2 separate regions of the Homo sapiens genome follow, and region 1 is linked to region 2. The links come from fine-mapping of genetic effects on gene expression. Tissue or cell type: whole blood. Region 2 holds a variant in brackets; the other region holds the start of a gene. All regions are shown on one strand. Distances are between the middles of the regions.

What was found. PIP is the estimated chance that this variant, and not a neighbour inherited with it, causes the effect.
Region 1: it holds the start of MAML2, and the variant in region 2 is fine-mapped to the expression of MAML2 in whole blood (INTERVAL, PIP 0.93).

Annotation. Positions count from the first base shown.
Region 1 is chr11:96,341,795-96,344,294 of GRCh38, reverse strand. It overlaps MAML2 (mastermind like transcriptional coactivator 2), which reads left to right and starts at 1,100. Exons shown (of 5, transcript NM_032427.4): 1 at 1,100-2,500. The coding sequence starts at 2,400. RefSeq lists silencers at 917-1,106, 2,224-2,483.
Region 2 is chr11:96,138,202-96,140,962 of GRCh38, reverse strand. The region is part of intron 1 of MAML2 (mastermind like transcriptional coactivator 2); the gene reads left to right. Among named protein-coding and RNA genes, the nearest start is that of MIR1260B, 200 kb to the left of the region's middle. The variant AAG/G (reference allele first, on the strand shown) is at 1,419.

The sequences.
Region 1 (2,500 bases), 200 kb before region 2:
TTGGCCTCCCAAAGTGCTGGGATTACAGGCGTGAGCCACTGTGCCTGGCCAGGATTGGATATTTTAAAGGTTGGATCACTTGAAAATGGGGGAACAATGATCTGTGTGAGATCTATTTGGTTTCTATTATTAAACTTCTTGAAACTCAGAGCCAGGTGCAGTAGTGGTGAGTACCTGTAGTTCCAGCTACTCAGGAGGCTCAAGTGGGAGGATCACTTGAGCCCAGGAGTTCAACTCCAGCCTGGGCAACATAACAAGACTCCATTAAAAGAAAAAAAAAAAAAAAACTTTTTGAAACTCAGCTGCTACACATTGACTTTCCTCATTGTATATGTGCACCAGGTAGCTAAGGATACTTCAGGTCTTATATTTGGTTTTTCATAGGCAATCATGCATTCCCAAAAAAAAAGCGTTTTTTTCTAGAACTGGTATCGATAATTGTATCATTCTCATAAAATATTTTATTTATCCCAACTGATTTGCCTGTGATCACCCAGACTCACTTATCCAGAGACACACAAATGGGCAGGCAGGTAGACAAACGCTACACCTGCCTGCCCTTTAGGAGCTAACAATGTGATTACCTCTCCTCTCCACGCGCAACCCCTTCCGCCCTCAACACACACATTCATATCTTCCTTATTCTATTAATGAACATTTCCTCGGTGCTCACACAGCTCGTGCTAGGTTGCTCAGTGGTGTCATTTACAATATACTGAAAAATGAAAATGATATCCTCAGCGGGGCGTAATGTAGGGCTGAAAGGGAAAACACATTCCTGGCCCGGAATTTCTTAAACATTTAGAGCTGGTGAAATGGTTGTGTAGAGGTTGGGGAATTTCCCCAGCCTTCCCCGCTTAACCGAGTCTGATGCTGAGCTGAGCCAGGGCAGCTGAGATGCGCAGGGCTTGGGATTTACCTCTTCAGCCACTGGGAGGCCCTCTGCGTTCCCCTTTCCCCGGTGCCTGGCTGCGATTACTCACTCGCGCAGTGGCACCAGCCTTCCACCAGGGAGCCTCGAACGAGCTCTCCCGCCCTCTCCCCGCCCCCCCACCCCCATCTGCAGCTTGCTGGCTCTCTCTTTCTCCTTCTCTGTCTCACTCTCTCTCTTTCTCTCCCTCTCCTATCGGAGCACAATGAAAGCCTGTGTATCGCCGTGACTCCGGGCGCGAGCCAGTGTCAGCAAAGCGGCTAACAACAGACGAGAAAGAGAAAGGAAAATACAAGCTACTTTTTTTTTCCATCTATAAAGCGGAGCAAATACAGGAGATAGAACCAGATTGCTTATTGCGAGTCCAGACCCTCAGATCCACTGGCCGGGGATGGAATGTACAAAAGTGGACAGAAAAGTGGCTGGACATGACTCGGTGCAATTTGCTGGAAGTTTGTAAGTTTGACCATCGTTTGTAAATTACTCTCGGAAGAGTTTGTCTCTCTTGATACTGTATTAGAATAGAGCCGGGGGTGAGGAATAGAAACGTAAGCGGGAAAGAAAAAAATGTGTTGAAGGATCTCTCTCAGTGGCTAGCGACTTAAGATTGCTTTTCATTTAAGGCTAGGAAACCTTAGAGGGAGTGAGGATTTTACCGGTGATTGGATTAGCTGAAGAAAAAAGCATGGTCCAAAAGTCCAATTACTGACATTGTTAACAGTTGAAAAGCTGTCTCCCTCTTTTGGGAGAAGACAACATCCTACAGTACCCCAAAGAGGAGAAAACACCGGAGCGAAAGGAAAGGGAGGAAAAATTAAAAGCCAAAAGACAGTCTCCCTTGATTTTTGCACATTTTGAACAGTGACTTAAACATCTTCTGAAACAGCACTGTTTTGTTTTGTTTTGGTTTTTTATTTAACCTGAGGAAAAGTCAAGGCTGCTGGTTACATAGACATGGTAGAAATGTGTTTCTCTGCAGAAACATCCCCATAAAGAATTGTCGGAAACAACTAGGTGAGGGGGAGTCCTCTCTATTAATACCTCTCTCAATACCTTTTGCTGTGTGTTTCTGTCTCTTGCTGGACAATCCCTGAATTCTTGATCTAACCCCCAGATCGTGTGTTTACAAAGTACCTAGTGGCTCTTGTCAGCTTGGTGGAGGAAAAAAAATCCACCAACTCTGTCCAACTTCTCCAGAGCTGTCAAATGCAATTAGAGTAAGTTAATCAGGGTTTGTTTCCAACTTATCCTCCCCCCAGTTGGTTTCTATTCTTTCTCCCCACCCTCTTTTTACTAACTCCCCTCCCCCACAACTTCTCCACGGCTCCCCCACAACCTCTGAAGACCTCTATTCATGTGGCCCTGAACACTGAGCTCACATTGTCAAAAACAGACTTGCCTGCAATAGCCAGCAGTAGCCTCTTTCCACCTCACCATCCCAGAGGCAGCAATCATTGTGTCCGGTAAGATGGGGGACACAGCGCCCCCGCAGGCCCCCGCAGGAGGGCTAGGGGGGGCCTCTGGGGCGGGGCTCCTTGGAGGGGGCTCAGTCACCCCGAGAGTGCACAG
Region 2 (2,761 bases):
CTTATTACATCTGGCCAACCTAGTCCTGAGTCAAAAGCAGCAAATAAAGCCATTTGAAAGACAGAGACAGTGATGTTCCTGTGTGTCCCTAAAATGACAGCTCCTAGCATGGCCCGTGATGGAATAAATGGAGCCAGTCAAGTGTATTTGACCTCCTTAGCCCATAGGCTTACCCTAATCCAGACTGGTGGGCTCTAGAGGGAGGAAGAGCCGCCTGACCCTCAAGTTCTAGACTCTGGAGGTATCTGTCATGTAGATCTGGAGTGGTGGAAGGTCCTTTGGGAACTACTGAACGATGGAGAGAGTGACGTCTAGGGGCAACACTGCTACCTCTGGCAGCACTGCTCCAGGCTATATCAACTGGAGCTGAGAAGTGCCTCTGCATGTAAGAGCTCTGGTATAAAGTCAGCAAAATTTAGAGAGTAGCTTCTTATGGTTTGCTCAAAGAAACTCCAAGATCTTGTCTTCTGCTGGCCATTCATCAAAATTGGCTTAGATTCATCTCAGCCTGTTCATGTTGGGCAGAAGGGCTGTGCCTTAGCCCAAAACTACATACCTCACCAGAGGCAATAACAGTGGTTTTAATGCTGTCTTTTCTTTCTCATCTATCTGGGCTGATTTTTAGCTTTTGAGGATCAAAGAACTAACAAGAAAAATATAACTTGTCAACAGTATGGTGAAGTCAGGCCAAAGCAAGAAGGTGAAAATGAATTGATATTAGCAGGGTAAGCAATTAATTTTCTTCCTTTAGTCCTGGCTTTTGTGCTTGCCACAAGTCTAATGGAGTACCAGATGAACCATGCCAATGCCTGGGCACTAATAACAAAACAAAAGCTGATAAAGATGGATAAAATCATCTATGGAGGCAGGAAGCAATTAACCACATAAAGAAAGTGAAACATCATCAATGATAAGCCTCAGCAGCAATTTACTTGGGTTTGAGAACTTTTCGTTCTGATGGTTTTCAATAAGTTTTCCTCATTTTCTGCAGCTTCCTTAATTCAATAGATTTTTTTAAAGATAGAATTATGCAGTCATTACTACCCACATACCCAGGCCTTCATTGCATCACGGAGAGTAGATGTGGGTGGAAAGAGTGGGAATAGGCAACAGAGACGGAAATTTCAAAGGCCCTTAATGTTTGCCTTTGCTTGAGTATTTTGTATTATTTTGGTCTTTGCCATCATCTGGTATTGCCCTGAGCTTCTGCACTGTCTTTATGAAAAACACTGAAAAACAACAGTTGTTGCTGACCAAAATGATTATGAGTAGGTAAAGGGGAGAGGTAGCCCCAGAGGTCAGATTTCCTGCTGTCAAATCACCTTTCTCTAGGGATCAAAAAATTATTGTGATTCTTGGTAAAGAATTTAACATGGTTGGGGATTTCTTATTCTCTCTTAAATATATCAAAAAAAAAA[AAG/G]GAACTGTTATATATCAAGTATTTGATATGATAATTGTTGGATACCACTGTCTTTTTTTTTTTTTTAAGACAGAGTCTCGCTCTGTCGCCCAGGCTGGAGTGCAGTGGTGGGATCTCAGCTCAGTGCAAGCTCTGCCTCCCAGGTTCACGCCATTCTCCTGCCTCAGCCTCCCCAGTAGCTGGGGCTACAGGCGCCCGCCACCACGCCCGGCTAATTTTTTGTATTTTTAGTAGAGACAGGGTTACACTGTGTTAGCCAGGATGGTCTCGATCTCCTGACCTCGTGATCTGCCCGCCTCGGCCTCCCACAGTGCTGGGATTACAGGTGTGAGCCACCACTGTCTTTTTTCAGTGGTGAGTGATAGGCCTAATGTATCTGATCGCTGTACAAAGTTGTATTAGGAAAGCTGATTTGGTTTGTGGAACATTACCAATATATATATGGAAAAAGGTTTTATTACCACATGGTTCTGGCATATCTTCCTTGTAAGGTATTGTAAGTATCAAATGACAAGGGAGTTCTGGAATTTACTACATGAGAAAGTATAACTAGTGACTTTTCATATTTTTGGAAGACTAAAGAAAAATTAAATTTTAGAATGGGTTGTGAAATCTCTTTCTTACCAGCATTTTATGGTAGAAGACAAGCATCTGCCCTCAAGTTTTAGAAAACTGGTCTATATAAAAGTAAGGGACTCAGCCAGATAAATCAAGCACCCTAGGACAATACAAAGTTGTCAGGAGGATTCCCAGGTTCTGGGGATCATAGAAACTCACCGATCTCTACCTGGAAAGCTTTTTGGGGCCTTCCTGGACTATGTCTCGGAGGTGCTTCCTGCTCAGGCATTTCCAAGTGAGGATGCATTATCAAACCCAGTCCCTGGTGGTTTACCCGGCAATCATTATTCACCAACCCCCCCATCTTTCTTACCCTCTCTGAATGCTGGCTGACCACTTGGGGGTAAGGAAAACAGGAAGAGTGCAATAAGATCGCCCATTAGCAGCCATTAGGAGTTCAACATTCATATCTCAGCAGTCACTGGAATAGATTTTTCATAAATTTCCTGAGCACCCTTGTGGAACACAATATAAGAGGCAGCCATTTTGCTCCCTCTTTTACAGATGGCATAAATAACTTCCTTTGGCCACAAAGCTTCAGAGTTAGGAGCTATACAAAGATCTCCTAGGCAAGGGGCAGTAATATGAGCTCAGGTGGCGGTCAGGTGGCTGTCTGGAAATCAGTACTTGAAGAGGGAGACAAAGGAATAGCTTTCAGGGATTCAGCCAACAAACACAGGTATCAGCATGGACGACAGGAAAGTATATTTTTCTTCATTTTTT